Regions from separate parts of the Homo sapiens genome. Here region 2 is linked to region 1. The links come from fine-mapping of genetic effects on gene expression. Tissue or cell type: Th17 cells. Region 1 holds a variant in brackets; the other region holds the start of a gene. All regions are shown on one strand. Distances are from middle to middle.

Region 1 (5,225 bases):
TCCTGCCTCAGACCTCTGAGTAGCTGGGACTACAGGCGCGTGCCACGACGACTAATTTTTTGTATTTTTAGTAGAGACAGGGTTTCACCATGTTAGCCAGGATGGTCTCAATCTCCTGACTTCATGATCCGCCTGCCTTGGCCTCCCAAAGTGCTGGGATTACAGTTGTGAGCCACTGCACCCGGCCCATTATATCATTCTTATGCCTTTGCATCCTCATAGTTCAGCAAACCCTTATAAGTGAGAACATACACGATATTTGGTTTCCCATTCCTGAGTTACTTCACTTGGAATAGTGGTCTCCAACTCCCGTACAAATTGCTGCAAATGCCATTACTTCAGTCCTTTTTATGGCTGAGTAGTATTCCATGGTGTAAATATATCACATTTTCTTTATCCACTTGTCAGTCGAGGGGCATTTAGGCTGGTTCCATATTTTTGCAATTGTGTATTTTGCTCCTATAAACATGCAGATGCAAGTGGCTTTTTCATATAATGACTTCTTTTCTTCTGGATATATACTCAATAGTGGGACTGCTGGATCAAATGGTAGTTTTACTTTTAGTTCTTTAAGGAATCTCCATAAAGTTTTCCACAGTGGATGTACTAGTTTATATTCCCACCATCAGTGTAAAAGTGCCCTTTTCATCACATCTATGCAAACATCTACTATTTTTTGACTTTGTAAATTATGGCCAGTCTTGCAGAAGTAAGGTGGTATTTCATTGTGGTTTTAATCTGCATTTCCCTGATAATTAGTGATGTTGAGCATTCTTTTTCATGTGTTAGTCATTTGTGTATCTTCTTTTGAGAACTGTCTATTCATGTTCTTTGCCCACTTTTTGATGGGATTATTTCTTTTTTTCTTACTGATTTGAGTTCCTTGTAGATTCTGCATATTAGTCCTTTGTAGGACGCATAGTTGAATATTTTCTCCCATTCAGTGAGGTGTCTGTTTACACTGCTGATTATTTTGCTGTGCCGAAGTGTTTTCATTAGGTAATATCTATTTATTTTTGTTTTTGTTAGATTTGCTTTGGGGTTTTTGGTCTTAAAATCTTTGCCTAAGCCAATGTCTAGAAGAGTTTTTCCAGCGTTATTTTCTAAAGTTTTTATGGTTTCAGGTCTTACATTTAAGTGTTTGATCCATCTTGAGTTGATGTCTGTATAAGGTAAGAGATGAGGATCCAGTTTCATTCTTCTGTATGTGGCTAGACAGTTATCCCAGCACCATTTGTTGAATAGGGTGCCCCTTCCCTATTTGTGTTTTTGCTTTCTTTGTTGAAGATGAGTTGGTTGTAAGTATTTGGCTTTATTTCTGGGTTCTGTATTCTGTTCCATTGGTCTATGTGCCTATTTTTATATTGGTACCATGCTGTTTTGGTACTGGTATAAATCTTGTAGGATAGTTTGAAGTCAGTTAATGCGATGCCTCCAGATGTTTTTTTTTTTTTTTTTTTTTTTTTTTTTGCTTAGTCTTGCTTTGGTTATGAGGGGTCCTTTTTGGTTCCATATGAATTTTAGATTTTTTTTTCTAGTTCTGTGAAGAATGATGATGGTACTTTGATAGGAGTTGCACTGAATGTGTAGATTGCTTTTGACAGCTTTCACAATATTGAATCTACCCATGAGCATGGGATGTGTTTCCATTTGTTTGTGTCATCAGTGATTTCTTTCAGCAGTGTTTTGTAGTTTTCCTTGTAGAGGTCTTTCACCTGCTTGGTTTTATATATATATATATGTGTGTGTGTCATAGATAGTTTTTATTACCTTGAGGTATGTCCCTTCCATGCCAATTTTTCTGAGGGTTTTAATCATAAAGCAATGCTGAAATAACATATTATATATTATAAAATAAAACATTATAATATATAATATATATAATACATATAGCAGCTGTTGTAAAAGGGATCGAGTTCTTGATTTGTGTCTCATCTTGGTCACTGTTGGTATTTAGTGGTGTTACTGACCTGTGAACATTGATTTTTGTATCCTGAAACTTTACTGAATTCATTTATCCAATCTAGGAGCCTTTTGGATGAATCTTCAGAGTTTTCTAGGTATACAATCTTATCATCAGTGAACTGCAATAGTTTGACTTCCTCTTTACTGATTTGGATGCCCTTTATTTCTTTCTCATGTCTGATTGCTCTGGCTAGGACTTCCAGTACTATGTTGAATAGAAGTGGTGAAAGTGAGCATCCTTGGCTTGTTCCAGTTCTCAGGGGGAATGCTTTCAACTTTTCCCTGTTCAGTATAATGTTGGCTGTCGGTTGGTCACAGATAGCTTTTATTACCTTGAGGTATGTCCCTTCCATGCCAATTTTTCTGAGGGTTTTAATCATATAGCAATGCTGAATTTTGTCAAATGCTTTTTCTGCGTTGATTGGGATAATATGAGTTTTGTTTTTAATTCTGTTTACTGGATATATTACATTTATTGACTTGTATATCCCTGCATTCCTGGTATGAAACCCACTTGACTATTGCTGTATTATCTTTAAAAAAATTTTTTTTATAAGTTATTGGGGTGCTGGTGGTATTTGGTTACATGAGTAAGTTATTTAGTGGTGATTTGTGAGATTTTGGTGCACTCATCACCTGAGCAGTATACAAGGCACCATATTTGTAGTCTTTTATCCCTTGACTGCCTCCTATTTTTCTCCCCAAACCCCCAAAGTCCATGGTATCATTCTGTGCCTTCGCATCCTCATAGCTAACTCCCACATATCAGTGAGAACATAAGATGTTTGGTTTTCCATTCCTGAGTTACTTCACTTAGAATTATAATCTCCAGTCTCATCCAGGTCACTGCAAATGCTGTTAATTCATTCGTTTTCGTGGCTGTGTAGTATTCCATCACACACACACACACACACACACA[CAT/T]ATACTCACACACATATATATATATACACACACACACATATGTATATATACACGTATATATGTATATATATGTATACGTGTATATGTGTGTGTGTGTGTGTGTATATATATATATATATATATATACACACACCACAGTTTTTTTAATCCACTCGTTGATAGCATTTGAGTTGGTTCCACAATTTTGCAATTGTAAATTGTGCTGCTATAAACATGCATGTGCAAGTATCTTTTTCAAATAATGACTTCTTTTCCTCTGGGTAGATACCTAGTACTGGGATTGCGAGATCAAATGATAATTCTTTTAGTTCTTTAAGGAATTTCCACACTGTTTTCCATAGTGGTTGTACTAGTATACATTCCCACCAGCAGTGTGGAAGTGTTACTGGTTCACTGCATCCACACCAACGTCTACTGTTTTTTTGATTATGGCCATTCTTGCAGGAGTGAGGTGGTATCTCATTGTGGTTTTGATTTGCGTTTCCCTAATCATTAGTGGTGGTGAGCATTTTTTAATGTGTTTGTTGGACATTTGTATATCTTCTTTTGAGAATTGTCTGTTCATGTCCTTAGTCCACTTTTTGATGGGATTGTTTGTTTGTTTGTTTTTTGAGACAGTCTCTCGCTCTTGTTGCCCAGGCTGGAGTGCAATGGTGAGATCTCAGCTCACTGCAACCTCTGCCTCCCAGGTTTAAGCGATTCTCCTGCCTCAGCCTCCCAAGTAGCTGGGATTACAGGCACCTGCCACCACGCCTGGCTAATTTTGTGTTTTTAGTAGATACAGGGTTTCACCATGTTGGTCAGGCTAGTCTGGAACTCCTGACCTCAGGTGATCTGCCCACCTCAGCCTCCCAAAGTGTTGGGATTACAGGTGTGAGCCACCACACCCGGCTGTTTTTTTCTTACTGATTTGAGTTTGTTGTAGATTCTGGATGTTAGCCCTTTGTCAGATGTATAGGTTGTGAAGATTTTGTACCACTCTGTGGGTTTTTTTACTCTGCTGACTGTTCCTTTTGCTGTGCACAAGCTCTTTAGTTTAATTAGCTCCCAGCTATTTATCTTTGTTTTTATTGCATTTGCTTTCCGGTTCTTGGTCATGAAATCCTTGCCTAAGCCAATGTCTATAAGGGTTTTTCCAATGTTATCTTCTATAATTTTTATAGTTTCAAGTCTTAAAGTCCATGATCCATCTTGAGTGATTTTTGTTTAAGGTGAGAGATGAGGATCCAGTTTAATTCTCCTATATGTGGCTTGCCAATTATCCCAGCATCATTTGTTGAATAGAGTATCCTTTTCCTACTTTTGTGTTTTTGCTTGCTTTGTCAAAGATCAGTTGGCCCTAAGTATTTTGGTTTATTCCTGGGTTTTCTATTCTGTTCATTTGGTCTAGTGCCTATTTTTATGCCAGTACCATGCTGTTTTGGGGACTATGGCCTTATAGTATAGTTTGAAATCAGGTAGTGTGATGCCTCCAGATTTGTTCTTTTTGCTTAGTCTTGCTTTGGTTATGTGGGCTCTCTTGGTTCCATATGAATTTTAGAATTTTTTTCTAGTTCTGTGAAGAATGATGGTGGTATTTTGATGGGGATTACACTGAATTTGTAATTACTTTTGGTAGTGTGGTCATTTTCACAATATTGATCCTACCCATTCATGAGCATGGGATGTGTTTCCATTTGTTGGTGTCATCTATGATTTTTTTCAGCAGTGTTTTGTAGTTTTCCTTGTAGAGGTTTTTTGAATCCTTTGTTAGGTATATTCCTAAGGTTTTTTTTTTTTGCAGTTGGAAAAGGGGTTGAGTTCTTGATTTGATTCTCTGCTTGGTCACTGTTGGTGTATAGAAGAGCTACTGATTTATGTACATTAATCTTGTATCCAAAAACAAGATTCTTTTGGCTGAATTCTTTTGTCAGTTCTAGGAGCTTTCTGGAGGAGTCTTTAGGGTTTTCAAGGCAAACAGTGACAGTTTGACTTCCTCTTTACTGATTTGGCTACCCTTTATTTCATTCTCTCGTCTGATTGCTCTGGCTAGACTTCCAGTACTATGTTGAAGAGGAGTGGTGAGAGTGGGCATCCTTGTCTTATTCCTGTTCTCAGAGCGAATGCTTTCAACTTTTCCCTTTTCAGTATTATATTGGCTGTGGGTTTGTCATAGATGGCTTTTATTACTTTGAGGTATGTTCCTTGTATGCTGATGTTGCTGAGAGTTTTAGACACAAAGGGGTGCTAGATTTTGTTGAATCATTTTTTTCTGCATCTATTGAGATGATTGTGTGATTTTTGTTTTTAATTCTGTTTATGTGGTGTATCACATTTATTGATGTGTATATGTTAAATGG
Region 2 (5,225 bases), 190 kb after region 1:
ACTAAATGTGATTGAAGTTTTCCTTTCATCGGGAAGGGGTGCACAGAGGATGTAACATGTTATTCTGGAGTACCTTGGCAGGCGCACCCTGGAACAGCAGGCTATCAGCTTACCCACAAGTGAACCATTCCCCAGGTGGCATGGTTAATCGCAGCAGCTTCACCATGGTAAAAGACAAACAATGTCCTTTCTGTCTTGTCCCAAGGAAAAAAAGACGACATCTACCAATTTGTAAGAGGATAATTTCCTAATTACCCCATGAAGTTTGTTTTTTTCTGGTGGGTCCTTAAATCAGGCTGAAAAGAGTGAAATCGGATCCTTCCTTTCGAGATGAAAAGCGTTATTGACAGCATTAGGTTTTCGCAGTGTCTCCCTCTACAACTGAAGGAAGAATCTGCTCATCTCCATCGCAGTAGTCTTGGAGGCAGCTGCAGCATGTGCAGGAGAAGGTCCCGAATGGAAAGGCTGGGGCTGGTGGACTTCAGCTTGATCACGACATCGTTGTTTAATTACTTGGAAAAGCTCCCTCCGGAGTGAGTGGAGGCCCCGACGGAATACATGACTCACAACATATTGACTCCTGAATGTTTTAGAAATGAAGCTTGCCTTAATTTTCGACAGCCATTAAATTCTCCTCAAGGCATTTTGTGAAAAAAGGAGGGGTGTTCTGGTGGTGGTTATCAAACCATAACCACCCTCAGCCACACCTGGGGCACTCCCAGACTGTTGGATGCTAGTCAGGAGACGAAACGAACGTTTCTGTAGCACCTATCATGTGCTCCAGAACTTTTCAGCCTCCTGCCTGACTTCTTGCAACAATCCTGCGAGGCAGGTGGAATAGCTGCTATTTCAAAGTGAGGAAACTGAAGCTCAAAGTCCCAATTCCCAAAGGGAGGAGCTGAAGAAGAGCGCCAGTCTCACCCCATCTTTCCGTGTCCTTCCAGAAGGAAGAGGCCACCCTGGTAGCTCTCTATTTCCAGAATTCTGCTTCTTTCGTCTTCCTCTCACTCTGACTGCTGGGGTGCTTACACACAGGGGCCAGCAGGAAACAGAGACAAAGGGGAGAAGGTGTAAACACGAGCAGGGAGGAAAACTTGGCACAAGCTGGATGTGAGAAGGATTGGCGTTGCCGGGGACGCCAGGGCTGGTACCAAGAACAGAGGAGACGGTGAAATGTGGCCTTGTCCTTTCTCCAGTTCCAGAAGGGCCGGTCTGCCTCCATTCCTAGAGTCCGTTGATTAACTCAACAGCTGTTTATTAAGCATCTAATGTGTCCCCAGTACTTCAATGGGCACTGGGAATACAGCAGCCATCAAACAAAGCTCCCTCCCCCCCGGAGCTTACATTCTAGGGGAGTTTCTATCTAGCGGCTTCAGGCAGTCCTCTGGAGGCTTAGAATGAGGGTGCTCCCTGTGGTTCCCCTGGACACGCACAAGCGCAGACACACATGCGCTCACATAAGTGTGCACTCACATGCACTTGCCCGCGCGCGCACACGCACTGCCCCGTCTTGCCGCCCTTTCTCTAGCCAAGCACCTGAAGCAGAGGCGCAGCGCGGATGACCCTGAACATGTGCGCGAGGAGCAGGCCAACCCCGAGGCAGCCACCAGCGTCTCAAGGCCCGCGCAGTCGGCGGGGCGCGGGGCGCAGCTGGGCGGTGTCCCTGGGAGGGAAGGAGGCTGCGCGGAGCCCCCGGAGCCCCAGCCCCGGGTAGTTACACCTGCCCGCGCTCGCTCTCGGGCACAGCGGGGCTCTTCCTCCAGGGGCTTGCGGTGGAGCAGGCGGTGTCAACCCCTCCAGGCTCCCGCTGGCCCACATCCGCCACCCGCCTTTGCCTCTTAGCCCCACAGACCCACACGGGCCTCTCCTCCCAGGCATGGCCACGCTGACTGATTCCTCCCTCCTCTACTGATTTCTGGGGCCCAGCCTGGAGGGAGAAAAGTGGGAAGGTGTCCACCTGCGCCAGCCTTGGTGTTTGGGTGAGACACAGGTGGAAAACAATTACAGGGCTCTTTGGAAACAGCCTCGGCCCTGGAACTGTGGCAGAAACTTGGACTCGGTGGCCTGAAACCAGGCTGAGGAGCACAGTCAGGCAGTGCGGACCTGTCCCTCGGGGCTGATTAATTAGACACTCCTTCCTTCCGAAGCCTTTTGGTTGGCTGTTTGTTTGTTTCCAAGGCTAGCAACCGCCTACCACCACTTCTCACACATGCTTTCCCTAAGGCGAGGCTGCGCGCAGGATGGCGTGCACTTTCCTCCTCCCTCTCAACTTCTCCCATGCTCTCTCAATCTCTGGTAGACAACTCCCTACCAGGCCACCTTTCTTTCTCTGGGCCAGTTAGCACCTTCGAGAAGTTCTCCTGTGGCCATGCCCACCTGCCTGTCCTCTCCAGGAGAAAGAGAGAGTGGCAGGGCAGGAGGAGGGTCCCCACCTCCATAGGACAGCTGGCTTAGCTCTGCAGAGCCCCTGTGGCTGGGAGGGTGTGTGTTAGGGCCCCATGGGGTCAGGGTACAGGCAGGCTTTCCAGGCAGGTGGGCCTGCCTCAGTCCCATCCTGCACCCCCTGTGGATCAACGTCAACAGCAAGAGACTCACACAGGGTCTGCTTCTCTCTCCTTGTCAGGTACAAGAGAACTCTGCATTTGTCTTCTGCCCACAACTTCGTTGAAGAAGTGGAGAGGCCAAGCAACTCCAAGGCTGTTTGGAAGGAGAGCTGGGCTCTGCCTCCTGGGAGAGTTGGAGGACATTTCTTCTCTGTGGAGTGTGAAGGGAGGACTGCCCTATTCCTTGTCTGCTAGTGCTTGCCCCTGGGAGCCAGTGCATCTTATCCCTTTTAATTCTCGCTGGCTCCCAGGGGCACGTATTACCATCCCATTTTACGGGTGAGGAGACTGAGTTTCAGAGAGTTGTTCCTGTATAGCTGTAAATATGGGAGGCCGAATAGGATGGGTTACATCACCTGCAACTAGTTTTATGGCCAACAGGAATTCATTTTCCTGGTTCTTGCAAAGCGGTGGATAAGGCTGGGAATTAGGATGCCCTCCTTCTACTCTAGTCATGCCAGTTTGGCCTCTGCTCTATAAACAGCCCTTGTTCTTTTCTGTCTCCTAGATTCTCTCACATAGCTTCCCCAACTTGGAATGCCACTCTCCCTCCCACCAGTTCAACTCCTGCATACCTGAAAGGCCCAGCTAACCTCTTCCCACAGGAACCTTCCCTGCCCACTCTAGCTCTTGGCCATCTCTCCCTACTCTAACTCTAACAATTGCATTCTGTGCCATAAAATCAAACTCTTCATGACAGTACTGCCTTTTATGATTTGCTCATTGTTTCCATTTCATTCGTCTCATTCCATCAGCCAGACTGATCCGTGTAAGGGCAGGGACCGAGCACGGACACTTCCCCTAGATGCCCCACTGTTTCCAGCTGAGTGCTGCCATAAAGTTGCACTCGGTGACTCCTATTTGGCTAACATTCTAAACATGAGCCAAGGGTCTTTGCTACAAGACAGTGAGGGGTGGTACTATTGGGCTTTCAACCATTAATGAGCTAGCAGCAACTTCCCCTCACTTGGTGGCCAGCCTGCCTGGTTCCTCCAGACTGTCAAGAAGGATTGCACCTGAGTTAGCTGAGAAAGAGAGACAGAGCTTAATTGTATGCTCCGTTCACACTAAGGCACCCAAGGACTACTTAGACCAGAAGCGTGGGCAGGTGTAACCACGTGGGGCTGGGGCTCCGGGGGCTCTGTGCAGCCTCCTTCCCTCCCAGGTATGTGACGATTGAGGATAAGTAAGTGAAATGCAAACAGTTATATACATAACAAACAATCTGGTCTAAAGTTGAAAACCACAAGGTGAATTATTGGAGTATTTCTTTCTGGGGCCCAGCCTGGAAGGAGAAGAGACGGAAGGTGTCCACCTGCGCCAGCCGTGGTGTTTGGGTGAGGCACAGGTTGAAAGCAATTACAGGGCTCTTGGGAAACAGCCTCGGCCCTGGAACTGTGGCAAGAACTTGGACTCGGTGGCCTGGTTTCAAATTATTGGAGTACTCTTTTTGGAATATTTCTGTGCTTTCTGTTGAAAGTTTGAGGCTGTTCAATGACATTATCTAAGGCCAAGCCCTTTTTCCTGTTACCTTCTCAGCATACATGAGTGGTCATTTCTTACCTCTATAGCTTATAATGTGTTTTCACATCTGTCATCCCATTTACTTCTTGCAAGACTTTGGAAGGGAATAACAGTAACAATAACAATGTTAATAAAAATGTTGATATTTATTAAATACTTACATGTTCTAGGCATCAAGGGCACTAAGGGCTTTATGTGTATTAATTGGTTTGTTCCTCACCGTTTCACAGATGCAGAAACTGAGGCACTGAGAAGAATGATTTCAGACCATACAGTCTTCCAAGTGGCAAAGCCTGGGCTTGAACCAGGTCTCCTGACCTACAACTTGGCAGAGAGAGGGACAACCACCATGTCCCCTTGTCCGTGGCTGCATCCAGTGCCGATTTAACTCAGCACTTCCGGGAAGCCCCTTTCTCACCCTGGCCCCAGGCTCGTTCCTGGGGAAGATTCAGTGATTGGGTTGGTATCCTGAACTCAAGGGAGGGAGACAGGAGAACTGGGCTTAGCTTGGTCATTCCCTTAACCTCTCCAAGCCAAAATTTTGTTATCTGCAAATTAGGAATGATGGTTCTAAAATATCTGATAGGCCTGTTGGAAGCATCTCATGAGACAGCGTAAATATAAAGCACTTGTAATCAAATTCCCCTCCTCTTCCCTTTCCCTGCTGTTCCAGGGAGCGTTGCATGTATAGACACAGGGTTTATTGTTGAATTGACATATTTATTTGCTGGGCCACATTACTGAATATAATAAGGCAAGACCCACTGAAAGGAACTCTGACTTCTGGTATCCCCTGGGAAGGAGGCCTGTCTTCAGTATGGAAGTAAGATCTCAGAAAGTAGGTCGTGGGTGAGAGAGAGACATCTGGCTCCTTGGCCTCTTTCTCTCCAGCCTGGACCTTGTGGACTCTAGACAGGCTGGAGGATATCCTTTGCAGACAAGTGGGGCTGGGCAGAGAGCCTCTCTGTGTGGGCCACAGGGTGCGGCAGTCACCTTAAGGGTTACTTGCATGTTATTCCCCACTTGAGTTACATCTTGTTGAAAAGCTCCAGCCTGGTCTCAGCCGCGCCACTGAGGACAACAGGGTATTCAAGTCTG

Alleles and levels. Alleles are on the strand shown, and positions count from the first base shown. SD is a standard deviation of normalised expression in the study named.
With allele CAT in place of T in region 1, the expression in Th17 cells of the gene that starts at base 2,624 in region 2 is lower (large effect, 0.91 SD a copy in Schmiedel 2018).

The links. PIP is the estimated chance that this variant, and not a neighbour inherited with it, causes the effect.
Region 2: it holds the start of LINC01395, and the variant in region 1 is the best candidate, but not a certain one, in a credible set for the expression of LINC01395 in Th17 cells (Schmiedel 2018, PIP 0.66).

Annotation. Positions count from the first base shown.
Region 1 is chr11:129,807,146-129,812,370 of GRCh38, reverse strand. All of the region lies in intron 1 of LOC124902793 (a long non-coding RNA gene), which reads left to right. Among named protein-coding and RNA genes, the nearest start is that of TMEM45B, 6.1 kb to the left of the region's middle. The variant CAT/T (reference allele first, on the strand shown) is at 2,885.
Region 2 is chr11:129,614,668-129,619,892 of GRCh38, reverse strand. It overlaps LINC01395 (long intergenic non-protein coding RNA 1395), which reads left to right and starts at 2,624. Exons shown (of 4, transcript NR_120582.1): 1 at 2,624-2,882; 2 at 4,358-4,586.